2 separate regions of the Homo sapiens genome follow, and region 2 is linked to region 1. Evidence: fine-mapped expression QTL. A gene starts in region 1. The other region holds a variant in brackets. All regions are shown on one strand. Distances are between the middles of the regions. Region 1 holds the start of SPTB (spectrin beta, erythrocytic). Region 2 overlaps SPTB (spectrin beta, erythrocytic).

What was found. PIP is the estimated chance that this variant, and not a neighbour inherited with it, causes the effect.
Region 2: its variant is the best candidate, but not a certain one, in a credible set for the expression of SPTB in whole blood (INTERVAL, PIP 0.86).

The regions. Positions count from the first base shown.
Region 1 is chr14:64,873,629-64,888,983 of GRCh38, reverse strand. SPTB (spectrin beta, erythrocytic) reads left to right here and starts at 9,077. Exons shown (of 36, transcript NM_001355436.2): 1 at 9,077-9,192. It overlaps LOC105370534 (a long non-coding RNA gene), which reads left to right. Exons shown (of 3, transcript XR_943942.3): 2 at 2,994-3,061; 3 at 7,596-8,103. RefSeq lists silencers at 8,457-8,536, 8,607-8,746, 8,797-8,966.
Region 2 is chr14:64,784,505-64,799,859 of GRCh38, reverse strand. It overlaps SPTB (spectrin beta, erythrocytic), which reads left to right. Exons shown (of 36, transcript NM_001355436.2): 9 at 1-113; 10 at 2,014-2,131; 11 at 3,145-3,303; 12 at 4,221-4,523; 13 at 5,243-5,393; 14 at 5,993-6,863; 15 at 8,004-8,141; 16 at 12,700-13,456; 17 at 13,909-14,111; 18 at 14,233-14,323. It overlaps MIR7855 (microRNA 7855), which reads left to right and starts at 14,174; the gene lies at 14,174-14,234. The variant A/T (reference allele first, on the strand shown) is at 4,868.

The DNA of each region.
Region 1 (15,355 bases):
ATGCTTATGAAATACCCAAACCTTATAGCAAAATAGAGAAGGAAGTAAGAATTACTCTAAATCTCACCATCTAGAAATCACTTAGATTTTTTGGAGTATCTTTCCTGATATGAAATGTCTTATTTCTTAATCAAATAGAAATTATTTAGAGCCTACTTAAAAAAAATCAACAGTATGCCATGACATCTTTCCCTATCAGTAAGCATAAAACCACATCACTTAAATGACTACATAGAATTTATGTGTGTGTGTGTGTGTGCATGCGTTCACACCATAATTGGTTTAACCAATCCCATTTTGATGAACATTGAAGTGATTTCCAATTTTTCATTATTATAATGAACATCTACTATGTTCTTAGCATAAGTGTAAAACATAGAAAGCTAAAGCTAAAAGAATCCTTAGAGACTAGCTAGTTCAATGCCATCATTTCGCAGAAGAGAAGCTGAGATATAGAGAGGTTAAGAGGAAGTAGAATCCAGGTATTTTGCCTTTACATCTAGTGATCTTTCTGGTTTACCCTGCTACTATCTTAAAAAAAAAATTCTTGGCTCTTAAAATGTCACTAAGTGGAACTGACTTTTTTTTCTTATGCCAATAGCCAAAAGATCCTACCTTAAAAGCTAACTCCTCCCGGGGTCATTGCATTTTAAGATTTGCTTTTAAGGCTGGACGTGGTGGCTCACACCTGTAATCCCAGCACTTTGGGAGGCCTAGGCAGGTGGATTACCTGAGGTCAGGAGTTCGAGACCAGCTTGGCCAACATGGTGAAACCCCGACTCTACTAAAAATACAACAAAATTAGCCTGGCGTGGTGGCAGGCACCTGTAATCCCAGCTACTTGGGAGGCTGAAGCAGGAGAATCACTTGAATCTGGGAGGCGGAGGTTGCAGTGAGCCAAGATCTCACCATTGCACTCCAGCCTGGATGACAAGAGCAAAACTCTGTCTCAAAAACAAACAAACAAACAAAAGATTTGTTTTTAGTTATGAAATAAGTTAGCAGATTCCAGTACATTCTTTGGAATGAAGGCAGGATAGGGATATGCTGAGTATTTGAAATATATGGGGCTGGTGTTATATGGGGCTGTTTATGCCATAAACAGGCATAAACATATACCTGTTTATGCCTGGCAGTATTTATTTGAGGAGAAGGGTAAGGGTGGAGAAATAGAGTTAGGCAGCAGTTGGGGTCAGTGATGGAAAACAAATGCCCACTCACAGTTTGGAACTCCTCCCAAAAGAAGGGTCTACAGCTTTCCTTTGGTTCAGTTTCTGCTATGGAAGGTCAAGAGCTGGGTGCGTAAGTGCATTTTGATTACTAAGATGGAGATGGAATAGAACAAGCAGCACAGAGTTGTTACTCTACATGCTTAGCATAATGTGGGGCTAAATTCTTGACTTAATTAATGACTTAAAATATTAGGTTATAGTATGAATCATCTACATTACATATCATGGGATTTGTTAATTTAAAAATCATGAGATACTGCTCCTTGAATAAATGATGCTTTAATAAGCAGAGATTTGGATTTCTATGTGATCTTTGTAAAACTACTTAAACTCTTTCTTAATTTCTTAATATAGCAGTAAGGATAATGATAGCAATTTACTTCATGAAATTGAATAAAAATGACATAAGGCATTTGGAAGAGAGAAAATGATAAATGCACTTTTAAAAATAGAATTTTTCATACCAAAAAAATGAGGAAAATGATATTTCTGAGAAGACCCAGTTATATTCTGTATGAATTCTATAAAACATATGTTTGAATTGAATCATAGTTTCTTGTAGACCAGACCTTAAATCATTGAAGAAATATCCAAACAGAAATTGAGCAGCTGTAGAAATATCCAATAGAAAAGAAAATGAGATGAATTTGCAGAAGTAATGGAGTCTTTTATTGCAATGTCTTTCCAAACTTTATTGAAAATTTCCCAAAGGTCTTGGTTAATATTAAGAACAAATATTTGTGAATTTGGAAACTGCTCACTAACAAATAAAAGCAATTAACAAGACCATTTATGCTGGCAGTAATTATCATATAAACACAAAATTGTTTTATTGGTTAAACTGTTAGAACTCCAGCTGTCATTCCATATTAACAAATTTGATTTTTTAAAATTATATTTTCTACCCTTGATTTGAGTTTCTGGCTTGATAAATATTAATAAAGGAAGAGAACAAAGTTTTCATGGTTAGTTACTCTCAGTTGTCTACTTGCAGACTACCCACTGTCTGGAGTACTCAAGGTAGAGTGTTAATATCAAAACAACATTAACTCACTCCTTATAATGCGTTTGGATTCATCTTCCTATGTTCTTAATCCTGTGTACTCAAGGCTTTGGCATATTGGAGTATGGGAGTTGGAGCAGGGCCATTGCCCAAGGATGAGGACTGAAAATGACACTGAGAGGGTGGAGCAGACAGAGACAAAAGCTAACCGAATCATCATTATTGTGTTTGCTATCCCTTGTTATAAAGACGTTGGAAGATGGCAGACCCCTGCCTCCATAGATGAGCTCAGTGGTAACTGTGAGCATAAAACCTACTCGATTCACTCCATTTCTCACCCATTGACAATAAGTTAGGTATGGATGCATCAGGGTAGCTGAGGACCTGGTGAAATTCAGGCACAAATATTGCCAGCTATGTTTCAGGGAATGTGAATTCATTTAAATAACCTTATTCGAACATAGATAGGAAAGTTAATCTCCTGAAAAAAATCACAAATATGCATTTTTAAGCCAAATAGAAATGACTTTTTGAATTACCTGTTCTTTGGTTGATCTCCAAGATTGCAACCTCCTTTAATTTCCATAATGTGTTCATTCATTTATTTACTCATTTGCTCATTAGGCCTTTATTAAGTATATCTTTTGTGTCAGATACTATGCTAAGTGCCAGGAATCTTAAAACTATATCCTGAAAGCAATGGGGAGCCACTGGCTGATTTAAAGAAGCAGAGTGACAAGACCAACCTTCCTTTTTAGAAAGTGTACTTTGGCTACTATGTGGAAGCAGAATTGAAGGAGAGGGAAACTGGAGAACGGATGAACAGGTAAGAGGCTCCAGAAGCAATTCATTGTGAGAAAAGATGAGGCTGTGTGATGGACTTAATTGTATCCCCCTAAATTCACATGTTGAAGTCTTAGATCTCAATGCCTCAGAAAGTGACTGTATTTGGAGATAAGGCTTTACAGAGGTAGTGAAAGTAAAACTGAGGTCATATGGATGGGCCCTAACCAAATATAACTCATGTCCATAAAAAAAAAAAAGAGAGTAGGACATAGGTGCACACAAAGTGGAGACTATGTGAAGACAGAGGGAAAAGATAGCCCTCTACAAGCCAAGGAGAGAGGCTTCAGAAGAAATCAACCCTGCCGAAACCTTGATCTTGGACTTCTAGACCCTAGTACTGTAAGAAAATTAATTTTTGTGTTTGAGTCACCCAGCATATGGTACTTTGTCATGGGAGCCCTAGCAAATTAATACAGCCTTGGGAACAAGGTGAATTAGCACCTACAGGTCCCAGTTCATCAGATACCCCAGTGTAAGTCTGCCATTACATCTACTCAAGCTCATGTGAGGTGACAAAAAACCTAATCCTGTGTGGCAAGGAAAGATCAGGAACTGCAATATAAGAAAAGATGCAGCCAGGCATGGTGGCTCACACCTGTAATCCTAGCACTTTGAGAGGCCAAGGCAGGTGGATCACGAGGTCAGGAGTTCGAGACTAGCCTGACCAACATGGTGAAACCCCGTCTCTACTAAAAATACAAAAATTAGCTGGGCATGGTGGCGCATGCCTGTAATCCCAGCTACTCAGGAGGCTGAGGTGGGAAAATCACTTGAACCCAGGAGGTGGAGGTTGCAGTGAGCCACTGCATTCCAGCCTGGGCAACAGAGCAAGACTCCACCTCAAAAAAAAAAAAAAGAAAAGAAAAGATGCTCATTAATTTCCAAGCCTGGTTAATGCTTCCATGGACTAGCAGATGACAGGATACAAATCTTGTTTTGCTTTTTCCTGTTATTGGTGGAGGGAAATTTGAAATTGGTGTCATCTGCCCCTTCAGAAGATGGTTCATCTGGTATTTGCAAACTTGCTGCAGGCTTTCAAGTTCCTTCCACAACCATTCTGTTTGAGGCATCTGAAGGGCAAGTTTGGTCCCTAATCCTTGATTCCTCCATATTGTAAATGGCAGGCTTTTCCAATTGGTCCTGCTGCTGCTTTGTCTTTGAAAGTTGTGGAGAATGTGATGCCTCTAGATGTTTCCAAAAATGAAATGGAAATTTCACCTTAATTTTATGAAATGCATGTCTTTGCAAAAGGGTAAAGAAGGGAAATAATGATTTTTGAGCTATGGGCAGTATTCTGATGATTTCTGAACATTATCATGAGTTCTTGATACCTCCATTGTTGTTGGCGGGGATTTGAGTTTGAGTTGAGTGGAACTTCAGGTTTGTTTGGTTTGGTATTTACGTTTTTCCGTAGCTTTCCTACATATATATTCATTTCTGAATTCAAGTGGTTCATTTATTTCACACAAATAACTTTGGTTATGTGATTCAGTTTTTTGTTTTTGTTTTTATTTTTGTTTTAGATAGGGTCTTGCTCTGTCACCCAAGCTGGAGTACAGTGGCGTGATCATAGCTCACTGCTGCTTCGAACTCCTAGGCTCAGGTGATCCTCCCACCTCAGCCTCCCAAAGTGCTGGGATTACAGGCATGAGCCATCGCATCCAGCTCAAAATATTTTTAGGATCAATTTAATTCAAGGCCAAGCAAGTTGGTGTAGCTTATTATAGTTTTTGGTTTATGACTTATTTTTATTCAATGTCTTGGGTTTTATAAATAAAATCATAAACTTTAAAACTGTTCATAAAACTGTGAACTATATTTAAAAATCATCTGGCTGGCAACTCAGTTGGTTTTTATAATCTGAAAATTTATGCTTTTCTTCAACTCTGAGAATTTCTATTCTACTTTCCCATTATTACCTTCTTCTACTCTCTTTTCTTTCCTTTTGTAACTTCCATTAAGCAAATACTGGACCTTGGGGGATTTTGCCTACATGGCTTTCAACCATTTTCACATACTTTCCATCTCCTTTGTCTTTTGCCCGGTGTTTGGGGAAAATTTCTTTGGCTTCTGTTTCCACTAATTTGCCCTTCAAGTAGGTCTGTTCTGCTTCTCAACTAATGAATTTTCAATATCAGAAATGACTTTTTAAATTTCTAAGGTTTCTCACTGATTATTTGTTGTGGATGCAATATCCTTTCAAGACTTGCTGATTAAAATTAAATTATTTAACATTTATCTTGTTCCTTTTATTAACTTAGTTTCCTCTGATATTATTTCCTTCTATTAGTTGGGTTTGGTGCTTCTCTTTCATGGTATTGGTTCCCCTCTCCCCATAAGATATTTGGTGGTTGTCCTATCATCCCTTAATGTGGGAATGGGCTTGTCTCCTCTTTCTGCTTATCATAGCCTATCTTCAGGGGCTGTGAAGAAGGGTCAGGACATGCTATCCCAAGAGAGTGAATGGTTTCTGTCATTTCTTGGGGTCACTAGATCCCTGAGCTCTGCCCCTTGGGTCCCAGGATCCCCATTAACTTTTTTTTTAAGTCCTGCAGGCAAACACCTGATATTTAATGTGAGCAGGACAGAGGAGGCTCCTAAGTGAATTATTCTGTCTCAGGGCCCCTCCTCCTCTTGTATCCTTTAACTATTGCTTGCAACTTCCCTAAACTATTGCTCCTCCTGAATCTGTTTTGGTTTCCTCTGATTTTGTTTCTCTGTGAATCAGATCTTGCATCTTTTCTGTATCTCTGGATTTCTTGAACATTGTTGGAACACTGATCCCCTTTTCCTTATTTTCCTGTGCTTTTAGATGCCTGTTTCAGACATATCTTCTAATGAAATTTGGGGTAGAAGAGAAGCTAAATGCGTGTATTCAATCCACCATCTCCATCCAATCTTTACTTTTTAATTTATTTATCATCTCTACTTATTATTAAACAATACAAGCTTATTGTGAAAAACTCAAAGACTACAGAAATGGAAAGTGAAAGTTCCCTCTTATGTTAGATGATTCTAACATAAGTCTCAACTTATATCTTCTTGGCCTCACCTGTTGGTTTCAGCTAGACCTGAGTAGACAGTTCTGTGAAGGTTTACCCCCCACTCTCTGGCTGTCAACATCTATTCTCAAATGCACACCTTCTCTTCTGGCCCCAGAACTCTTCCAAATCTGCAGACTGCCTATGTGGAGCTTGCTGGGTAGCTCGGAAGTGTAGGTTTTCAACATGGGTGGGAGACCAGTGGGGGCAGTCCTTTGTCCAACCAGGATGAGGGTTAATCTCCTATCCTTCACATAGACAATTCCAAGAGGTATTCTATACTCTTCTGAGGAGGTCCCTCCAGACGTGATCCCTATTGCCCACAATGATGACCTTGATAACGAACATATGTATGTGTTTCCTTCTCCCTTCTTTTTTTTTTTTTTTTTTTGAAACAGAGTCTTGCTTTGTCACCCAGGTGGGAGTGCAGTGGCGTGATCTTGGCTCACTGCAGCCTATGCCTCCCAGGTTCAAGTGATTCTCCTGCCTCAGCTTCCCAAGTAGCTGGGATTACAGGTGCGCACCACCACACCCAGCTAATTTTTGTGTTTTTAGTAGAGATAGGGTTTTGCCATGTTGGCCAGGCTTGTCTTGAACTCCTGACCTCAAGTGATCCGCCTGCCTCGGCCTCCCAAAGTACTGGGATTACAGGTGTGAGTCACCATGCCCAACCTTTCTCCCTTCTTTTATTCTCCCAATTTCTCATTCCTGGCCACAGAGATCTGTTCCCCTTTCCCTATTATTTGACAATGCCCTTTCCTCACTGCAAGCCTAAATTTCCTCTCTTCCTCAGTTCTGATTTATCATTTCACTGTAACTCTATTAGCTGTAAAGCATTTGGGGATGCTGTCAGGATAACATGCTCTGTAGCAAATGAGGTTGTATTGAATTATTTAGCTTTCAGCTAAAGTGGAGATAACTAAAGCAGCTGAGCTGGTTTGTAAAATGTTGGGGTAATCTGTCTGCTGATTTGGAGTTTTATCATATTAATTTTTTCTTATGGTTGAAAATTATAAATTTTAAGGCTACAAAGAAAAATATGTATGCAACTATTCAGTTCAGTGCCACAGACCTATAGCTAAGGAATTATCTGGCTTGCATAGTATATAATTACGTAGCTGCAGAACCACCATTCTAGAGAACCATGAATTTATCTAATAAGTTTATTCATACAAGCTTTTAAAAAACCATAAATACATAATTTCCCTCCATTTTTTTCTAACAAAAATAGATGAAGGATTTCTTCTTGAGATATATAATAGTCTCAGCTTTTGAAGTTGGCCTGTTTTTCTTGAGCTTTCCTTGCCAGAATTTGACTTTTAAACATTTTTTTTCACAAAACAGAACTTTCTCTTTTTAACTCAGTAATAGAAAAATGCATTCTTAAATGTTGTCAACAAAGGGGAGGAGGGGATCACTGCGAATCTATCGATGACCATGAATGTTTTTGTATCCTCTTTCCCATATTACTAGTGTCTCTTGGAAAATTGAGCTGTAATAAGGATCCAGCCAAGAGGAGGGTGGAGTGAAGAATTCTGTGGCTCTGTAATACCTGGGGCGTTTGTCCCACTCAGCACATCTCAGTGTCTAAATACCCACCCTCAAGAAGTGGGACTGCAGCAGGAAGTGAAGTATCTTTGCATATGTTCAATATATAAACTAAACTCGAACATCTGGCAAACACCCCTTTCCTGGGTGAATTCTGGAAAACAGCACAATTATAATCCCAAGCAAATAACTCAGGAGTAAGACTGTTCCCTTGTTAAGAACACCAGGCAGCATCAGTAAAAGTTAAAACTTCTTCTGCATCTATGCGCTTTTAATCTCCACGGCCATTTCCATAATACCTGAGATTACCTGCGTTGATAGCTGGTGAGAAATCATCCCAGGCACCGCAGGTGGAGAAAAGAGATGAAAGCTACCTCAAGGCGTACACGTAAACCTTACTGAACAATGACCTTGATCGTTAGAAAGTCAAGAAAATGTACTGCCTTGCAAGCTGCCGGTGTTCTATTGAGTTTCTCTCCGGGGGCAACTCGGAGATGCCTTTTTGGCACCATCGGTTCTAGTATTTCCTCTGGCCTGCTGCGCCGCGCCTCATCCAGGCTTGTAGTGAGGCACCCCCACTCGCCCGGAGACCCGGGCCGGCCAGGAGGTGCCAGTGGGCAGGTGTGGCAGCCTGCCTGTTGATTACAGTCCCTACAATGTGCGAGCTCCTTGGGACTGCAGGCTGCGCGCCGCCAGCTTTGCCTGGTTCGTCCTGATTACACTAGGTTTTCGGGCAGAAACAGCGACACTGAGCTCGGGCTGGGGGTGGGGCCCTCGGGCCCAGTGCCCGCCCCCTGCCCTCCCACCGCCAGCCGAGAGAAGCCCGCCCGGGAGCGCGCTTTCTAATGCACCAGCCCCCGGGAACAATCTGTCCCTCCCAAACCCGCCACGGCGGGGGTTCACCTCCCGGGTACCCGCCGCGCCCACCCTATGGCCTAAATGTCTTTTCATATATTTTAAAAACTGAACTGTGTGCAGTGGGGATGCAGGGCGGGAAAGGCTGGAGGGCTCATTTTCGCCACCAGGCTTGCCTCTCCGGGCGCACGAATTAGGCCCGAGCTAGAGTCCAACCCCCTTCCCGCCTCAGGGGGCTCGGGGTGGCGCGGGGTTAGGGGCAATGAACGACGATGGAGGCGCCCCAGGCTCAGCGGCGGGCGGGGAGGCAGAGGCGGGTTCCAGGAGCCGGGCTGAGGCCCGGCAGGTGCCCCCAGGCGCGGAGGCTGATTGGCAGGTGCGTGAGTGGGTGGGGAAGGCGGGGGCTGGGCTTGGCGCTGCGGGAGGCTGCGGCCCCGCCTCCCCGCCCCCGCCGCGGGACTATCTGGTCCCGGCAGCAGCGATGTCCCCCGGCAGGAATGTCCCTCCTCAGATAATGTTATTTATATCTCTGGGCGGGTCCGCGGCTCGGCAGCACCAGGCGCCCGGCGGCCGCTGTGCCAGGAGCCCCGCGCTGCCCTCCTCCCCCTGCGCCGCCGCCGCCGCCACCCCCGGGCTCGGGGTGGCCCCCGCTTCAGTCCCAGGGCAGGTGAGTCCCAGGAGGGCCCGGCGGCCAAGGGAGCTGGGTGCGGGTGCGCAAGGCTGGGACGCGCGGCGCCAGCTCAAAGGAGCGCTGGGCCCAGGGGGCGCCTGACGCGCAGGGCCCAGAGGACCGGGTGGGAGTCCAGCCCCGGTTGTCGGGCGTGGGGTGGGAGGGGTGCGGGGCCCGGGAAGCCCGGCAGCTGCGGCAAAGATCATCCCGGGACGCGGGAACGCGCGCGGGCGTCCGAGGCACTTGGTGCTAGCTTTGGAGAGCGGGATCCCGGAGAGTCCGTCACCCCGGGGCGCAGGGAGAGGGTGACGGGGGTGCGTGTTCTCGTCCGCCTTCTCCAGGACCCCGGCCTGGGAGCGAAGGGGATTGCGCCTCTAGCCCGTCCGACCGCAGCGCTGCTCTCTGCCTTTTTTTGTCCGGCTTCTCAGCCTTGTGGCCGCTCATATCCCTCTTCTGGGGAACTTGGCTGCGCTCTCCTCGGGCCACCCAGCGCCCAGGCAGGAGGGACAGGTGAGGGCAGCAGAGGGGGCCGGGCCTCCGGGTGCTGGGAGCCACCCAGAGAGTGACCCCGTGTAGACCGAGGGAGGAAAGATCCTAGTGCCCCAAGCCATACTTCAAGGACCCCTAGTCTTCCTCTCCCAAAGAGTTCCTCTCTTCCTCTAAGCTTCTCCGGGCTACTCTACCCTCACCCTCCTCTCCAGTTTCCCCTCTTCCTCTAACTTGGTCTTGAGAAATAGCAGAAAGTGGGAGAAATAACAGAAGCTGTAAAACAATCCCCAACTCCCACCAACTCATCCGTACTTCCCAGGCTGGGGAAGCAGCTGCGGGGCTGGAGTGCTGTTTCCCTGACAACGAGCTTCAGGTAGGGCCTTGAGTTACAGCCTATTAATATCCAAACCACTGTTTTCAGTGAGCAATTAGAGGCGCCAGCCAGGAGTAAGGAAAATGAAAAGAAGCCACTGTTTTTTGTACATCTAAATTTTAGATGCATCAGATTGGGGGGTGGGGTGGGGGGATATAGTGACAGCCTTTTTGTACTGAGAATTTCTGTGGGGAGAGACTAGGCTGTCACCTCCAGGTAGGAGGCAGTCATGCAAAACCCCTGCCTGGAGGTAGTCACGATCCGTATTTTAGTTTCTAAGGGAAGAGATTCAGGCGGCTCCCTAATGAGAGGAGTCTGCAAATCAAAGATTTTTAGGCACAGCTCAACTGTCCACTGTCCTATCCTTAGCTTCACAGATGGCTCTGAATTTTATTCTAGAATTCCCTCTTCGCCCACCCCTTCCCCCACTATAACCCAAGGCAGGTCATTTCTTATTTTAGGATTCAGCTTTTATTCTTTTGCTCTGAGTCCCAGGTTCCAAAATGCAATTGAAAACACCTTTTTTTTTCTAAGTGCAAAATGATTGTTAATGTATGCTGAATGTCCAGCACCTGACACAGCTAGGCCTGTGCTTGCCTGGAGGCTTGCAGGCTAGCCAGGAAAGGGAATGTTAAACTTACATTGAAGAAGAGCCCACCAGCCTTGAAACCCACTAACTCCAGAGGTGGGTCATTTATAAAGAATTTTATCAAAAACTCTAGAGTAAAGCACCATTGAAAGACATAAACGCTCATGAAAATGTGGCTTTCAGACCCCTTAGCTGTTGCTCTTAGCTTTATCAGTGCCCCAGTGGCAATGATGGGGATGAGCCAGTCCTATTGATCTTGAGTTCTGGGAAGACTCAGAGTCCACTCATGGAATTGTAAGCACCCAAGGACTCCCAGGCATCCAGGATGGGCCTTGTAGCACAGGCGTATCAAGTTCTCCTGAGCGGCTTGCCCAGAAGAGAGTTGGGATACCACCTTTGGCTCTGATCAATGCTTCTTCCAAGTGTTCTGAAGGTGTCCTATAGCAGAACGCCTGCTAGATGACTAGTTTTGGGGGTGAAGGTATGACAGGAGCAAGACTCCTACCTGGGATCACATTTGGCAAAATAAAAATGAGTATTTTAGGCAAGCTAGGTGTGAATGACAGTTTTGAACTAAAGTCAAAATTTGACAGGTCTGCTGCAGCTCTGGAAACAAACTGTTTTTGGTAAATAATAATAGCTTTTATTCTGTCTTTTATGTTGTTGTACCCAGTACCTGGATGGTAGTGGAACCTCAGTTAACCTTTGTTGAATGAATGAGGAAACCAACAAATGAATGCTCAGCGTTTTCTCTATATTATCCAATTTAATTGTCATGGTAACTCTATAAGGTAGCTCATATCAACATTTTACAAGTAAGGAAACAGGTTCAGGAAGATTAAATAACTTGCCTCATATTACCCAGCTAATGAGAGATGGGTCCAGGATTCAAACTCAGTTTGTTTGGTTCTACCTTCTTTTTAAGGTTAGACACTCAGCAGGGAATATAAAGTACAAGTTGGGAAGATTTGACTGTTTGTCTTCTAGCTTCATAATCTTCATTCCCAGGACCTCAGGTAATAGTTCTGCTTATATCAGAGGAGCTTAAAAAATATTATCTGAAGATAATATTGGGCATTTATTTGCTCAGAGGTTCTTAGCCTTACCCATTATTTTCAGGTCATTGTTTCAAGGACAGAACTATAATTTTGGCAGGAGTCAAAGCATGGATTTTTTTTTTTTTTTTTAAAGAACAGATTTTCCTTTCAGTCCTGGAAGTGGCCAGGAGGGCTTGATGATACATAGGGACAGTGTGATAGGACAGAGGATGGCTATAAAAAATTCATGAGGCAAACACTATTGGAGAGGGAAGGGATTCTGGAGGTCACTGAACCCAGCCTTCCATGTGCATACTTACTGGCTTAAAGGCAAGACCTAACTGAATGTACCTGATCATTGATGTGTAGCTATGGCACCCACACTTCTTATTACTCGAGTTCATTTCTTTCCTGTCTCACTCTCAAGGCCAATATGGTTTACTTCCTGAAGTTCTGCCTAACCAAACTACTGAGATTTTATTTCCTTTGGAGGAGATTATGAGAGGATGTGTTTTTAATATCTAGTCCTTTCATTTTAGTGCAATCTTAAAGAAAAGGTACTGAGGATAAGCAGGAGAGAAGGCAGTCTCAGGCTTTAAACTCTAAACTGTTCTATAATCTCCCCCATTGCTTGTAAGGTGTACACATGTATACATTTTAAAACAATAGTTATACACATTACGATCTAGAGACAAGAAATCTTAAGTAATTATGTCCATTTTTGGGGGGCATGGGGAAGGACTTTAGAGAACTGTTGAGACCGTCAGATACGTGTTTTAACCTAAACCCAATCACCAAATTGTTCTTGAAGAGCAGCACTTTAATTTCAAAATCAAACACAAAATTTTACTGTCTGCTCAAGACCTGAAAAGGTAGGAAACATGACCAGTGGGAGATTTAAAGTAGAGATGGGGTTTCACCATGCTGGTCAGGCTGGTCTCAGGAGTTCGAGACCAGCCTGGCCAAACCTATCTCTACTAAAAATACAAAAATTAGCCAGGTGTGGTGGTGGGCACCTGTAATCCCAGCTACTCGGGAGGCTGAGACAGGAAAATTGCTCGAACCTGGGCGGTAGAGGTTGCAGTGAACCGACATCGCGCCACTGCACTCCAGCCTGGACAATAAAGTGAGATTGTGTCTCAAACAAACAAACAAAAAATTGATATAAAAAAGCCAGGTATAGTGGCTTATGCCTATAATCCCAGTTACTTCGGAGGCTAAGGGAGGAGGATTGCTTGAGCCAGGGAGTTAGAGAGGCTGAACTATGATTGTGCCACTGTACTCCAGCCTGGACAACAGAATGAGGTGCCATCTCTAATTCATGAATTAATTAAAAAGTGATTTAAAATATGTTTCTTTGTTATGGAATTTTAAAATTATAGAATTTAAAAAAATAACCTGAGACCTACAGATTAACATTTATCAATGAACTTGGGAAGATCAAGAGTGAAAATAACTGTGCTATGTGGGCTGATGAGAAATTTGATTATATAATGAGGACTGGCAAGGAAGTTCATGGATACTGGGTTCTGAAACCATATGGATATCACAAGCCAAAAATGACTGTGGAAAGAAGAATTTTATCTTTGAAGCAGCTTGTATTGACTCAGTTGATTTTAACAGACAGATCGTAGGTTACTCCTCTGTTTTAGATAAGAAATCTGAGGAAGAAGAGTAGATGCAGTGGTCTGTGTGCCAGAATCATCATGTGGCATTTGCTGGGTTTATCACAGAGATGCTTCCTTCTTCACCCCATTAGGGGAAGGTCACCTGTTTTGGAGATGGAGATAGTGATTGAGGAAGAGCGTAGGAGGCAGTCAGGAGAATTAACTGTCAGATCTGGCTCTGCTCACGGATTGCCAACTCCCCTTGGTAAATATTTAGAAAATGCCATAGTGTGTTTCCCTCTGTTGCTGCGTGTATTTCTTAATTCACAGCCAAGTGATCCACATTCTTCCATTTTCAGCCAGCCTCAGCTGAATATCAAACCATCAGGGGATCCCTAGCCTTTATAGCTCACGTAGTCTTAGAGGTGGTCATAGACAGAAAATGCTTCCTTAATGAATTGTCTGGCTAGCTTATCAAATTCCCAGACCACCTTTCATTTTTCTCTTTCCTTTTCCTGGTTGCAGGAAATATTACAAAGCCCTCTTCTTCCTACCTCAGCAAGCCCTTCTCAGGCTTTGCCATAATGTTTTATTTCCACATCATACCTGTGCAGACCTGGCTGAGGGTAGAATTACAAGGGCAATTAAAACTCAGCATATATCATGTGAGCAGTGGGGGCAAAAGTGGGCTTCCTTTCTTTCATTTGAATGTTATAAATTTAGCAAGTGAAAAGGCACAGGGCTGAAAAAAAAATAGGCTTTGCATTGAACCAGGCTCAGATCATCCAGGATATTTATGAAGAGACTAACGGCACCTTGATAGCTAAAGAACAATAATTGCTTCGAATTATAGTCAATTTAGGAGTTTCCACCATTGTGAAAAGGAGAAGAAACTTGAATAATTCCGAAAATGAATACTTTGAAAATATTTTCCATTTGTACCAGACTTAAATATGGGCGTGTCTCACTTGAGAATGTATAGCAATTCAAATAAAACAAAGCATACTTTAAAGGCATAAATTATGTGGACCAGAAAGAAGTCTGTAACCTTATTCTGTCCCTCTTTTGAGTCCCAGCCTGTTTCTAGAAGAACCCTAGGAGTGGTCAATTAGCTTCATCTTCCAGTATATTTCCAGAAGGGTGGAAAAGCAAGAAAAGGCCTTTCATAATACTGACTTCGAGTCATAAGTCATAGAGAGTTAGAGGTAGAAAGGCCCGAGAGAGAATTGAGGTGTATTCAAAAAGAGCAGACATTGGGTGTCTACCACGTGTCTTACACTGTTATGTGCTGAAGACACACAAAGAGATCAGATGGAGAATCACTGATCTGGTGCGAAAATGGCCTTGCAAACAAGCAGTGATTCAACAGGATGCCTGAGAGAGAGGGTGTACAGGAGGAAACATCTCATTCAGGTTGGGGAATGAGAAGACCTTTGAAAGTGCCTAGGATTTCTATAATGGAAGAAGGGAGGATGAGGGGGCCTGCGAGTGGGGCTTTAGGAAATTGCCCAGCACAGACAATAAAGCATGATTAGGTTAGGGGATGAAGTGTAGTTCCACATGGCAGAAGTGTGACCAGAAAGGTGGTTGGGGTTCAGCCTGTGAAGAAGTTTGAGCCACTGGAAGTTTTTAAGTCATAAAGGGGTGTGATGAAATCTTTGTTGACAAAGCTCACCAGTGGCAGTGAAGAGAAAGTGAATTAGATCCCAGCCAGTACAAGATGATGATCACAGATAACTATAGTCCACTCAATTTTCAGCATGCCTTTGTCTACACATCATCTTATTTTATCTTATGATGAGCATGTGAAGGGAAGATCTGATTATTCCTGGTTTCCAGTTACAAAACAGGATTAGAAATGTACATTTATATACTCAATGTCCCTCTAGTAGTTTATTCCAAAACCTGACTTTGACCCAGTTGCCTAGTTCTGAGGCTGGGGCTGTTTCCAGGTCTTCTCAGTGGAGTAATTGAATATTCTGGGCCTTCTGGTTGAGACCGCGGTTGCTTTTTTTCTTCAGCAGAATATTCCACATAAGTTCATTGGTTCTGGAGAGAAGACACT
Region 2 (15,355 bases), 89 kb after region 1:
ATCGAGCAGACCATCACTGTCCTGAACAGCCGCAAGTTTGCCAACTCGCTGACGGGCGTCCAGCAGCAGCTGCAGGCCTTCAGCACCTACCGCACCGTGGAGAAGCCGCCCAAGTAAGGGCCCTGGCACATGGGAGGGTGGTCCTCAGTGGCTGGGAAACTGACCACCAAAAGGTAGAGCCAGGTTCTGGGCCTTATGAAGTGTGTCCACAAGGCACACCCTCAAGATTAGAGAGCTGTATGTGTGTCACCTGCCTTGTGCCCCTCTTCACCACTCTTCTCCCAAGCCATCAGCTTAGAGAAACCAGCATTGATGAGAAACCTCGACTCACGACCAAAGACAGTGGCTTCTCCCAGATATCCCTGAGGAGGAACAGGAGGGAAATCATAGGCTTCTGAGTCTCTTTGAAGAACCCAGGCTGGAAAGCTCCTCTCTGGTCTGCCACTGAGCTGTGGGCTTGTTTTCTGATGACCTCTGTGCTCTCAGCCCCTGAGCTCTCTGCATGGGGCCTTATGGATTGTCAAGTTCATCCTTCTTTTTCTCTCCCATCTGTCACTGCTCAGCAACAGACCACTTAGCCTGCTTCTCAGGACCTCTGCCCCACCCTAGTGTGTGCAGAGCCTGTGTGCATATGCTTACACACATGTGCATGCAAACAACCGTGCACACACATGCATACCTGCATACACATAACCATGCATACACACAACTGTGCACCCATGAACATGCATGCACACACAAACATACACACACAACCGTGCACTCATACACATACACCTAACTATACATGCATTTATGTGTGCACACATAACTATGCACCCATGCACATATATATGCACATACAACCACATGTACAAATGCACATACATATATACAACCATGCATGTGCACATGCACACACAAACATGCACACATACACACATACACACGGGGCATTCCAGCTTATCTGCCATTAGCTTGTCCAGATCCTCTGAAATAGGCTTCTAGCTCATTGATGGTACCTTCTGCTCTGCTCTTCCCCCCATCTCCCACACTCTGCATTCATGACTTTCAAATGGGGAAAGGTGAAATGCTGAGTCTAGGATATACTATAAACAAGTATCTGGTTTCTAGTCTGACAGTAACCCATTTCTGAAGCCCTAAATCCAATACAGTTAGCATCCTCTATGAGTCTACCAGTCACTGCACACAGAGGTGTTATCTCTTGGCTGTGTAGACAGTGCTTCACGGTCACAGTTCTCTTAAGTGCCTGTGAGCACTGAGATCCATTAGGCTGGGCTCAGGGTGGGGACCTTGCATATAGCTGATCCTTGACTGCCAGGTCAAGGATGCAGAAATGGGTGGACACTTAGGTACATGCAGAAATGTGGAAGTACCTGATACCTGGAGCCTGTACCCCATATGCTAGACACCGATCCTGCTGACAATTCTTGTCTCCTACACCTACAAGCCTCTCAGAGCCCAGCCTTTCCTGCCTTCTGGGAAGCATCTGGCCTGTAGGACTTGTCAGGAGATCTGGCTCATTAGGACCTGGGTGAAAGCTGTTTTCAGTGCAGGATGCTCTCCCACGGAATATGCTGCTTCTGGGGTTTTATTGACTCACTTAATAAGGAACTGACCAGAGAGCTAGTAAGAAGCCCTCATCACTTGCAGCACAGAGAAGGTTTTTTAAAATTTTTTTTGTATTGATCCGTACAACTTGATATTTACAGGAATTACCAGAATACCTCAGCTTCCCATGTAGAGGCAAATGATAAATGCTGTGGTGGCCATTGTGTTTTCTCTGGTTTATATTGTAAAGACCCAAACCCCTAATAGATCTCAGTTGGTGAAAAGGATAGATGTTTTAACAGGTAAGCAGACCTACAGATTCTCTTTAGTTTTTCTGTGTTTTTAAGGGAAATATGCTTTGCTATCTACGCTTCAAGATGCCACAGTTCCGTGTTGACTTTAGCAAAAAAATTTGGCCATGAGATCTTAACATCAGTCTTCCTACTTCTGTTTTCTTGACAGGTTTCAAGAGAAGGGGAATCTGGAAGTTCTACTTTTTACCATCCAGTCCCGGATGAGAGCCAACAATCAGAAAGTGTACACACCCCACGATGGGAAACTAGTGTCTGACATCAACAGGGTACCACAGCATTTTCCGTTATGCATTGACAGTAGATTGATTGAATTCCCGATAAGGACACAGTGAATGGTCATTGGACCAGATTAAACCAAGCCACTTTCTTTGATGTTATTAATCCACATGTTGACTATTTGGGGGAGTTATCGAACCTGGTTCTGAGGGGTCAGACTCTACTCCCCCACCCTCCTTCAATCCCCCTGTTCAGATGCCCTGCATCCCTGAGTCCTTTTTTTTTTTTTTTTTTTTTTTTTTTTTTTTTTTGGAGACAGGGTCTCACTCTGTCACCCAGGTGGTAGTGCATTGGCACAATCACAGCTCACTGCAGCCTCGTCCTCCTGGGCTCAAGTGATCCTCCCACCTCAGTCTCAGTAGCTGGGACTACAGGCATGCACCACCACACCTGGCTAAATGTTACATTTTTTATAGAGACAGAGTCTGGCAATGTTGCCTAGGCTGGTTTTGTACTGGGCTCAAACAATCCTCCCACCTTGGCCTCCCAAAGTGCTGAGATTACACGTGTGAGCCATCACACCCAGCCTCCGAGTCCATTTTTTTGGAGCCAGTTTTGTAGCCTATCCTCTGTAGAACCTTGAGTTTGTCTTTGAAGATGGAATATTAACTACTTATAACCAAAGGGAAATGCCTATGACATTTCAGAGGCTTGGAGGCTTACCACCACCTGGCAGTTCATATTGAACGGAGGTAGCCATTAGTCAATAAGAACTTACTGAGCATCCAGAGAGGTGAAAAACATTATTTTGGGCCAAGAGTCTGAGGCAGGTTTAGGGGAAGAGGGAAGTGAGACTCATGAGCAGTGCCCTCTGAATCTTTGATGGGCCCAGACATGAAAGCCAAAGGCTTTTATTGATCTTTAATCTGCTACCACGTCACCCAAGAGCATCAGGCTGTACCTTGATTCCAGAAATCACTCAGTGTTGGGTGAAAGGGGTGGAGCCCCCAAAGTGAGGCATTTCTCCTGTGCCCCAAGAATTCTCATTCCATCCTTTGTGCAGGCCTGGGAAAGCCTGGAGGAAGCTGAGTATCGGCGGGAGCTGGCCCTGAGAAATGAGCTCATTCGGCAGGAGAAGCTAGAGCAACTGGCCCGGCGCTTTGACCGGAAGGCCGCAATGAGAGAGACCTGGCTCAGTGAAAACCAGCGCCTCGTGGCCCAGGTAATGAGGGACATGCTTTGGGTGACAGGAGAGGGGACATTCTTCAGAGCCCCCAGCTCTTGGCTGGGCTGGAGTCCAAGCTGGCTTCTCACAGCCTCTCCTCGTGCCTTGCAGCACAGCTCCCCCGTGATCCAGTGGATCAAGATTTGCATCTGGGGAGGAGCTCTCCAGGATTTATTAAATCTCATTTTTAGGAAAGAGCCTTGGAGTCTAGAACTGGCCGCTGAAGTTGTCTTATGTGGGCCTGTAGTGTCAACTACAGCTGGGGTTTCAGTTGATGTTAAATTGTGGTTCTTGGGGGATATGGTAAAATCACAGACTGCACCTTGTCTGTGTCAGGCATGCCTTTTGGACTCTGGTCTCTGGTGCTGTGACATAATTCTAGCTAAGAATTGACCCCAGGGCTGATTCTTCATCAGAGCATCTGTTCCCTCTCACTTAAAGCTTGGAATCAAATTAGATTCTGTCCAGAAAGGGGGCAACAAGTATTCTGAGAGCACTGGAGAGTGTATGCGCACCCCAGATAGCATGTGAATAAACCATCTGTTTGCTGGTGCATGGGTTTCCGAGTGAGAAGCAGCCCCTTCCTGCCCCAAATCCAACAGGTCCACTCGAGGCATGTGGGGAGTGCCAGCAGGCTGCCAAGGGGCTCCATTAGTAACACGCAGGCTGCATCTCCCACGCGGGTGGCACGGGGAGTAAAATCATGAACTTCTCTTAGAGTCTCTTGTGAGACATTAATTTTTGGAACTTGGGTCTGATAAGACAGGCTGCAAAAGTAAGGCAGAACTAGCTGCTTCTTGGGAATGTGCTTTCCCATCTAGCACTGGTTCTGAAGGGAGCTGCCCTGTCCCTGAGTTTGGGGATGAGCCCCTGGGTGTCTGACTGAGCTGCCTGTTTTTCTCCCGGTGGGGCAGGATAACTTTGGGTATGACCTGGCAGCTGTGGAGGCCGCCAAGAAGAAGCATGAGGCCATCGAGACCGACACGGCTGCCTACGAGGAGCGGGTGAGAGCCCTGGAGGACCTGGCTCAGGAGCTGGAGAAAGAGAACTACCATGACCAGAAGCGCATCACGGCCCGCAAGGACAATATACTGCGCCTATGGAGCTACCTGCAGGAGCTGCTGCAGTCCCGGCGCCAGAGGCTCGAGACCACCCTGGCACTGCAGAAGCTCTTCCAGGACATGCTGCACAGCATCGACTGGATGGATGAGATCAAGGTGGGCCCTGGGGGCCGCCCCCGCCATGCCCTGCAGTGCTCACCTTGGGTCTCAGTGGCCCTGCAGTTAGCATAGGCTTCCTTAGACACCTCCCAGCCAGTCATATCTCTGAGTCAAAATAGAGAAACTGAGGCAGCAAAGTGTCTAGCTGCACCTGCCTCTCTGCCTCTTGGTCCACTCTGCTCCAGCAGGTGATACCAGCCCAGGTCCATGGTACCCTGGTGACCGAGAAATCTTGGGTTTGTGGCAGCACCGGTGCCAACCTTCAGGGCCTTGAAGAGACAGACATTAATCAGGAACCTGGAGAATCAAGCTCTTAGTAATTACAATTTGACTCTGGTTAG[A/T]ATCCAGACCTCCCAGCATGAGGGCAACCTCTCCTCTCTCTCTGCCGCAGTGGGTCTCAGCTGAGGACACACATCAGACTGCCCCTGGAGCTTTGTGAAAATACACATGGCCAGGCCCCAACCCTGAGACCGATGCAGTAGATGAGTGTGGGGCTTGAGCATCTGTAAGATGTTCTATGGATGATGCTGATGGGCACCCCCAGTAGGCACTCTCCCTCTGGAGCTTCTTCCATCCTCAGCAGCAGCCCTTTTCTGGCTGCATTTGGCTCACCCTTGCTCAGATTACTAGAGACATGCCCTTTGCAGGGGTCTCTTCTCCTAATGTGTAGGTCTCTTCACTTCTCCTCATTTCCTTTCTGCTGTTCTCTTTGCCAGGCTCACCTCTTGTCTGCCGAGTTTGGGAAGCACTTGTTGGAGGTTGAAGACCTGCTACAGAAGCACAAGTTGATGGAAGCTGACATCGCCATCCAAGGGGACAAAGTGAAGGCCATCACCGCAGCCACCCTGAAGTTCACCGAGGGGAAAGGTGAGACCAAGTCTGTCTCCCCTTTTGAGGCTTCCAATGCCAGAGCCTCACCTCTGGCCTAACAACCCAACTTGGATAAATCTCCTGGAACCAACTTTAAAGTTCTGTTACTTTCATCAAGTAATGGTCCAAGAAAGAAGCTTGAGGGACCAGCCAAATTCTCTAGAGAGCAGGCAACTGCTTCGGTAACCTATAATCACCAAGGAGGCACCCTCTGTCCTTCATTCTCCTTGCTAGTTCAAGTTATGGCTGAGACAATTTAGGTTTCCAGATTCTTGTTTTAAATAAGAGACCTCACTGCATCTTTCAAGAATGACCTTGAAATTTTTTTAATTAATTTAAAAATAATTTTATGTTGTACATTTCTATTAAGAACTAACCCCACTTTTTATCTTCCTTAACCCTGAAGTTCAGTGGGAAATAATTATAAAGAATCTGTCCACCCTCTGAGCAACTGGGACCCCCCTGCATCCAACCCCAAAGCCCCAGTGACATGGCAGCTTCAGGGTTGTGTAGTTCCAACCTAGCAGCTTATCTGAAGCGTGCCCATAAATGAAGCCCATCCCCCACTTTGTCCTCCTTCCCCCTATTTCTTCCAGGGTACCAGCCTTGTGACCCCCAGGTCATCCAGGACCGCATCAGCCACTTGGAGCAGTGCTTTGAGGAGCTGAGCAACATGGCAGCTGGGCGGAAGGCCCAACTGGAGCAGTCCAAACGACTCTGGAAGTTCTTCTGGGAGATGGATGAGGCTGAGAGCTGGATCAAGGAGAAGGAGCAGATCTATTCTTCCCTGGACTATGGCAAAGACCTGACCAGTGTGCTCATCTTACAGCGCAAGCACAAGGCCTTTGAGGATGAGCTCCGTGGGCTGGATGCTCACCTGGAGCAGATCTTCCAGGAGGCTCATGGCATGGTTGCGCGCAAGCAGTTTGGGCACCCGCAGATCGAGGCCCGCATAAAGGAGGTGTCGGCACAGTGGGACCAGCTGAAGGACCTGGCTGCCTTCTGCAAGAAGAACCTCCAGGATGCTGAGAACTTTTTCCAGTTCCAGGGCGATGCGGATGACCTGAAGGCTTGGCTGCAAGACGCCCACCGGCTGCTCTCTGGTGAAGATGTGGGGCAGGACGAAGGGGCCACGCGGGCCCTGGGGAAAAAGCACAAGGACTTCCTGGAGGAGCTGGAGGAGAGCCGTGGGGTGATGGAGCACCTGGAGCAGCAGGCCCAGGGATTCCCCGAAGAGTTTCGGGATTCCCCAGATGTGACCCATCGGCTGCAGGCCCTGCGGGAGCTCTACCAACAGGTGGTGGCCCAGGCGGACCTGCGTCAGCAGAGGCTGCAGGAAGCCCTGGACCTGTACACGGTGTTCGGGGAGACAGACGCCTGTGAGCTGTGGATGGGAGAGAAGGAGAAGTGGCTGGCCGAGATGGAAATGCCAGACACCCTGGAGGACCTGGAGGTCGTGCAGCACAGGTCAGAGTTAACTCATCTTTTCCTCACGTCCCTGTACCCAGGCCTGGGCACCATCTCCCACCTAGTTTGGTAATAGTCTCTGGATCAGCAAAGGTCTCTTTGAGAGGCCCTGGGATGTCCTTTGTTGCAAAGTCCTGGCATTAGGAGTCATAAGTTCTATTCTGGCTCTGTGGCCTGGGGTACTTCACCCTTTGGGGCCTTGTGTTCCTCAAACAAAGGGAATTTATCTAGTCCAGTTATTCAATTACTTTTCAGCAATAGCAGTCTTTGCTCAGATGAATTGTGTATGGAACCCCCAGGTCACACAGAGGAAAAATGGAGCTACTCTGGAGAAGGAGGTTGAGAGGCCAGGACCCTGCCAGCTCTAGCTTTCTGTGGCAGTCCTTAAGCCAGGAGACTCTGAGGGGCCACAGAGAGAATTTGCAAACCCCCTGTCTGCAAGGCCACTCTCACCCCTGGTGTTCTGATTTTGTCAGCACCCCAGATGATGAGGCATGCCCCAGTCTGTGCAGCATCTCAGCAGCTGAAGCACAGAATTCAGGCAGTCAGGAGAAGGAGAGGCCGCTCTCTGGAACAGTGCCAAGGTGGTGCTGCACTGATGCTGGAGAGTCCTGGGCTCTTACCCTAGAAGGATCGGCCTTCAGAACCACAAATTCCCCCCGACCACCGCCCCAGCAGCTTTTCCTTATCTTACCCAGGAATGGAGCACCTGGCTGGAAAGGGTATCTTTTGGGTTAAGATGTCAAGGCATTGGACTCAGAGTCCAAAAGCAACAGCCGGAAAAGCAGAGGCCTGGAAGGTGGCCCTTGTGACAATTGACATCCCCCACACAAATACACAGTAACCTCTCTTCAGCCCTCCCTCCCCTTCATATGTCTCTCTTGAGCCAGAAGCCCGTGTAGGAAGTAACTGGCTCTCTCCCGGCCTGTTCCAGGCAATGCTAACTCATGAAATCAAACCCATGAACCAGAAAGGAGGGCCAGCATATCTGTTTTCTTCCTCCTGCCTCACCTGGGCAAATGGTTTAGGCAGTGGAAGGAGAAAGCAAGAGCTACATGTTCTGGAGACTGGGGGTGCCACTGGCAAGGAAATGTCTGCTGCCGCCTCACCCATCCTCATATTTTCCTTTGCCCATATCAGGTTCGACATCCTGGACCAGGAGATGAAGACCTTGATGACTCAGATTGATGGTGTGAACCTCGCTGCCAACAGCTTGGTAGAGAGTGGCCACCCACGCAGCAGGGAGGTGAAGCAGTACCAGGACCATCTGAACACCAGGTGGGGTGTGGGTAGGGCATGGGGCGGGGGCATTGTCTCTCAACATCTGACACACTGCTGGGGGCCGGGCCCAAAATTTAGTCCACCTAGTATGCACCAACACTTCTATACCCTCAACATTCCTGTCTTTTTTTTTTTTTTTTTTTTTTTTTTGACACAGAACCTCACTCTTTTACCCAGGCTGGAGTGCAGTGGTGCGATCTCGGCTCACTGCAACTTCCACCTCCTGGGTTCAAGCTATTCTTGTTCCTCAGCCTCCCAAGTAGCTGGGATTACAGGCGTGCGATACAATGCCTGGCTAGTTTTTGTATTTTTAGTAGAGATGTGGTTTCACCACGTTGGCCAGGCTGGTCTCATTCCTGGCCTCAAGCGATCTGCCCACCTCGGCCTCCCAAAGTGCTGGGATTACAGGCATAAGCCACCGCGCCCCCACCGACATTCCTGTCTGTCTCAGCCACAGTCCCCTTCCCAGTAGTACTGGAACTATAGCAGCAAGGAGGAATGATTGAGGTGGTGAACAGCCCAGGGAGGGAGAGAGACGAGTCCTGGGAGGCTCGAATGCTGTGCCTGGGGAGGGTGGGTGTGTATGTGTGATGGAGGGCACATCCCAAGTGTGCCCAAACTTAGAATCAGGCCATATGCTTCTCATGCTATATTTCCCTGGACATTCTTGGGCAGAGAAAATTGCTTTCTGAGAGCTCTTAAGTACTGTCCATAAAATAATGCTCCTGCCTCTGCCAAATGCAGTATCGATAATGAGGCTGGCTTGAAGGAAGAGGAGAATTAGCAGGGAGCCTTAAGCAAGCTTTGTGGCCAGAACAAAAAATAGGCCCCAAGGAGCCTTTAGAGAGGGGGTGCTTTCAGTGTGGGGTGAAATTGCCCATGAGTTCCTGGAGGATCTTTGAGGACACCGCAAATGCCTGCATTCCCTGTCTTTACCGTGGGCCCTGCACATGCAATGCCACATGTTCACCACCTCCCCATTACCCCAGCCCCTTCCCCACACCTGTGCCTGAGCGTTGCTCTGCCTGAGGCAATCTGGGAGGTGGGCCTAGGGAAGACTCCATTGTAAAGAAAGGGATCGGCACAGTGGAGAGTTCACTGGGGGGCTAAGGGGAGGCAGCGATGACCAGAATTCTTTAGAGCCACTAGAATGGGATGATTGTCTTAGCAGCCCAAGCTGCAGAGTGCGGTTTAGGAGATTCCTTTGTCAATCTGATGTTTTACAAAGGAAGAGAATACCTCTTCCCTCTTCTTTCGCCTTGTAGGTAATGAGTTTGTGTGTGTTGGTGGGCAGGAGGTGGTAGAGATTATTGCAATTGCTGCATAATTGAGGAAACTAGAGCAGGTCTAAACCAGAGAAACTTCCTGAGAGGAAGAACTCATCAGCTCAACAATAAACTATAGTCTGAGAATGTTGATCTTTACAGACCCCTAAAACAGGCCCCATCCCCAAGAGAAAAATATCAAGGTACCTGCCATCCTTAAGTGAGAAAAAAACCCGAGGCATGAAATTAAATTTGAGAGTTGAAAGGAACCTGAGAAGTCACCCAGTCTAGCCAGTGATGGGGAACTCACTCCCTCACCCGGCAGCCTATCTCATTTTTGGGCAATTCTTTTTGGTTAAAAAGTTTGCTCTTCCATTGAGTGGAAATCTGCCTCCTTGAAATGCGTACATATTGATTCTGGCTCTGCCCTTGAGAGATATCACACTTACCCTGGTTCCTCTTCCGTGTATAGCTCTTCAATTATTTTTCAGAACAATGCTCATTCTATACCTCCACCCCCAGTGTCGCCTCATGCCTCTGCGGTTCTTTCCCTCAGGGTGCATTCTCCCTCCCTCTACATATTCCAAATCCTGTCTCTGCATGAGCCAGTCCAAGTCGCTTGCTTTCCAGTTTTCCAGATGAAAAGCAATCTTTTCCTCCTTTGTACTGGTTTTGAGCTTCATATCCTATCTTACATTCTAATTATTTTTGTCCCCAAGGACTTTCCTGCTAGACTATGTAAACAAATGAAGACCTGTATCTATTTATATTGCCCAAGGGCTTTGCACACCTAATACATTTTTGGGGTTCCTGCTGTTTAGAGTATTATTTTCCTAGCTATGCCCTTGGCTTACTCTTTTTATTCAGGTCTCAGCTCAAATGTCAGCTTACTGGCATGGCCCCCGCTGACCGCCCCATGGAAAGCAGCACATCCTTCCTCTCACTGACCCACTTGGCCTCTATATTGTTACCTTCTTTTATTTTTTCTTTGCGCTTATCACCACTTGATGGATTATAGACTTGTTTATGTCTCTATCCACTTGAATGAAAGCAAGGACTTTGCATTACTCTTTATTAATTAATTAATTAATTTTTTATAGAGACAGAATCTCACTCCATTACCCAGGCTGGAGTGCAGTGGTACAATTTTGGCTCACTGCAGCCTCAGCCTCCCAGGCTCAAGTGATTCTCCCATCTCAGTCTCCTGTGTAGCTAATGCTACAGATGCACACTACTATACCCAGCTAATTTTTTGTTTTTTTTGTAGAGATGAGGTCTCACTATGTTTCTCAGGCTGGTCTTGAACTCCTGGGCTCAAGAGATCCTCCGGCCTCAGCCTCCCAAATTGCTGTGATTTACAGGTGTGAGCCACTGAGCCCAGCCTGCATAGTTCTTTGTCATATCCCTAGTGCCTAGGTCAGTGTCTGCCACAAGGCAACTGAGAGTTGCTTGATAAATGCTTAGTACATGAGTGAACTGGGAAAAAACTAAGGTTTTTCTGCCAAGCTTATGTGTGAGTCATTCAAACACTTGATGAATGTGTGATCATCTTTCACCGTATGCTTTCCAGTTGAAGAAAAACCTGGCCCAGGACCAAACCTAGACTCTTGATGTTGCCTGACCAGTGATAACTAGAGTGGCTCTATCAACCTCCTCCATCTCAAAGACAGTGCAGTGGAGGGGGCAAGTGTAGGTTTGGGAAGCAGACTAGACCCAAGCTCCAGTGCATCTTGGTGTGGCCTCCACCCAATGGCTACAGTGAGGCCACTCCAGGAAAGGCCTGGAAAATCACTATGGGGCCTCTTGCCTGGGGACACAGCCAGACCCTCTCCCAGGAACACTTCCCTGTCGATTCCAGGGCTTTCAAACAAACTTGGAGAAAACCCCTTGATTTCCTAGCCTCAGAGCACCATCTGTGTGCCAGACAGGCACGGAATTCCCAGAGCACGGGGTCTTCATGGTCTAGGATGGGAGCCGAGAAATCTGCAGGCTCTCTCTCCTCTCTCGTATCCCTGGTCTCTCCCAGCCTGTCTCTTATATCTCTCTGCAGACCTTTCAAATCATACTGGCTGCTGTTGTCACACCTTGGGAATGCACAACAGCGCTCTCTGTCCAGTCCATCTCCTAGTCCCTCAGCCTCCATCCCCTGAGGCAGGGTACAAAGATGAATGAGACACTTGGTCCCATCCTTTAATTGGTCACTCCAGTGGAGGCACTGGGGGTGTGTTCACTGACTGGGGCTTTGTGTCCAGTGATGGGTTGTGTGGAGGTCACGTGAGCAACTGTCACCCCATTGCTCCTTCCAGCTGCCTTAATCCTCCTCTCTGCCTGTTAGGTGCTGTGCACATGAAACTTTATGCTATGTTATTTGTGAGCTTGTCTGAATATTTCTCTAAATCATACACCCCACAGGGCATGGTCTGGTTATGTCTATATTCTCCCAAAGGCCAATAAAATGGCTTATACCCCTGTGGGTGTTCGAGAAAGATGGGTTCGATTAGAGAATGAGCATTCAGCCTGCATATTACAGTGATGCAGAATGAGTGAACCTAGGCCCAAGGGCAGTGTCCCTAGTGGTCTGGCCTGGCTGATGGGCAGCTCTTTGAAAGAGGCTTATCGTGTACTGCAGACTGACCCCAGGCCCCCAGGCATCCGCCAGACCTTAGCACATTTCCGTATTTCATAGCAACACTGCACTCGAAGGTTAAGATTATGCTAGTCACTTAAATTATCATCACAACTTATTCCTCCCCATTCTCTTCTTCCCTGTCCTCTTCTTCCTCTTCTTTTTCACCAGGGCATCTTTTCTCTTAGATCCAAGGTGATCTCTTTCAGGCCCTAGGAGACGTTGCATGTGGCCTTGGGCATTTACTTGGTTCCTCTAGGGCAGCTGGGGACCCTATGTCCTGAAGCATTCTTGAAGTTAATGTGAGCCTTTTAATTATTTTGATATTTCATAAACTCTGGGGAAATTGTATATTTGCCTGAACTCCAACTACATGCATAGACTTTGCTTTCATGTTCCTTTACTTATGGTTGGAGTCACATAATTAATTGCCCCCTGCTGATCAAAAGATCTGATTGACAGTTATATATGTCTTGAGTAAAATTGGAGAAGTGAATTTTGCTCACCTACACTTCGTTAGGTAGATTTTTTTTTTTCTTTTTATCATACAAAGTCTGTGGGGGGAGACTTGTGGGAAATGTGGGAAGGGGTCAGGGTCTCCTATGGGAAGAAGAGCTAAGGGAGAAGGTGTCTCTCTCCTCCGGGCTGTGTCCCCATCCGGCAGGTGGCAGGCATTTCAGACCCTGGTGTCGGAGCGGCGGGAGGCTGTGGACTCAGCCCTCCGAGTGCACAACTACTGCGTAGATTGCGAGGAGACCAGCAAGTGGATCACGGACAAGACAAAGGTAGTGGAGTCCACAAAAGACCTGGGGCGGGACCTGGCAGGTATCATCGCCATCCAGAGGAAGTTGTCAGGGCTGGAGCGTGACGTGGCCGCCATCCAGGCCCGTGTGGATGCCCTGGAGCGTGAGTCCCAGCAGCTGATGGACTCGCACCCTGAGCAGAAGGAGGATATTGGTCAGCGGCAAAAACACTTGGAGGAGCTGTGGCAGGGCCTGCAGCAATCCCTGCAGGGCCAGGAGGACTTGCTGGGGGAAGTCAGCCAGCTGCAGGCCTTCCTGCAGGATCTGGATGACTTCCAGGCCTGGCTCTCCATCACCCAGAAGGCTGTGGCCTCTGAGGACATGCCCGAATCCCTCCCAGAGGCTGAGCAGCTCCTGCAGCAGCATGCAGGTATCAAGGATGAGATTGACGGGCACCAAGACAGCTACCAGCGTGTTAAGGAGTCTGGGGAGAAAGTGATCCAAGGCCAGACGGACCCAGAGTATCTGCTTCTGGGCCAGCGGCTGGAGGGCCTGGATACTGGCTGGAATGCCCTGGGCAGGATGTGGGAGAGCCGCAGCCACACCCTCGCTCAGTGCCTTGGCTTCCAGGAGTTCCAGAAAGATGCCAAGCAGGCTGAAGCCATCCTCAGCAACCAGGTAGAGAGGCATTCAGGGCTGGGACAGGCGGGTCTCTCAGGGCAGTAGCTCTTGTGGTGAGTCCACAAATGTGCTGTAAGACTCAGGGACCACATTACTCTTGTCTTGTACTCTGTATTCACTCATGGGGGAAATCTTTGTTTCTCATTAGGGGCCTTTTCCAGCCTTGTGTCCCAAACTACGCCTTGTTCTTGGGTCTATCAGAGGCTAGAGAAGCGCATTTTGCCCTGGGTGGTTAGCCTTCCATGTGGCTTTAGGCACACTGTTTATTGTGTGCCCCTGGGGTAGGGGTGGGGGCAAGGCCTGGGGAGTAGTGCCTCCTCCCTGTACTACTCTAGGGGGCTCATTCATACCGTGGCCTGTGTGGCTGCACGTGGTGCTCCCACTTGGGAGGTGTGCTCATCACCTCCTCCGTGTGTCTTCATGCCTTGTCTGGAAACTTGTTCCAACAGGAATACACTCTGGCTCACTTGGAGCCCCCAGACTCCCTGGAAGCTGCAGAGGCTGGGATCCGGAAGTTTGAGGATTTCTTGGGGTCTATGGAGAACAACCGGGATAAGGTCTTGAGTCCTGTGGACTCTGGAAACAAGCTGGTAGCTGAGGGAAACCTATACTCAGACAAGATCAAGGAGAAGGTGCAGCTGATTGAGGACAGGTACTCCCGGGCCCCAGGGCCACGAGGCCCCCAGAGCCACACGGGGGTAGTGAGGACCCCAAGCTTGGTGAGGACCCCAAGCTCGGCACTATTGTGACTGTGCTTTTGGCTTCCTTTCCAGGCACAGGAAGAACAACGAGAAGGCCCAGGAGGCCTCTGTCCTACTGAGAGACAACCTGGAGCTACAGAACTTCCTCCAGAACTGCCAGGAGGTGAGGCTCCAGCAAGGAGTGGCTGCTTTCCTGGAGATTCCTTTCTAGAAGCAGAGTTCCCTCAAGGCAGGAAGTCCACAGGGATCCTTTCTAGCTCAAGAGCTGTGGGATTCCATGAGCGGGGACCTCTGGGTACTTAATTGGGTCATTCTCTGGAATCTTCAGTTGCACTGTTTTTTTTTTTTCAAATCTGAAAAGTCATCCTTAACCTGTCAAGTCTAGGCCAGAGTTTCTTAAGAGTAGTCTAGGGACAGTCTATTTTAGAATCACCTAGGACCCAGTCTGGGCCAGCTTTGAGGATGTGTGACCTGTGTCACACCCTGTGCTTTGCTTAGAAGGGCCCTGGGCTCAGGTTAATGCTCTACTCTTGCCATCTTGAAATTCTTCATGCTTTTGAACAACTCCATTTTGTACTGGGCCCTGCAAATTATGGAGCCAGTCCTGGTCCTAGTTAAAGCAGACCCCTGGGTCCCACTCAGGCCAGATGAATCAGAACTTTACGGGGTGAGACAGAGAAAGAACATTTTAAACAAACCTGCCAGTTGGAAAACTGCTAGCTCAGAAGGTCCTTGCTCAACCTGGGACCAGCTGTACAAGGAAGGTCTTTAATCCGCCTTCCCAGGTCCCTCCATTGACAGTACTTTCTACATGGAATGGGGTTTTCCCTGACTTCTTTCTTGTCATACTCCTTTTCTCTCAGCCCAGACAACTTTGTTTTCATTGACCTCTGTCCTTGGCTTCTTCCTCAAATAACATTTTTTCCTGTGTTTATCAAGGATCTCTCACCCTACGGCCAAAGGACGGATTTATCCACCTATCCAGTAAACACTCGTTGGGTTCCTAGAATATGCTAGGCCCTGTCCTAGGTCCTCAAAATATGGAGAGGAGCGTAAAGTATCCCTGGTCTACACCACACACACTCCAGTGGGGAAGATGCACCTGTGCCCACATTTTAGCCCTGGCCTGTCATGGGTAAAGTTGCCTGTGCTGGTACAGAGGGATCCAGAACTGCAGATGGGTTCTCTTCTGTGC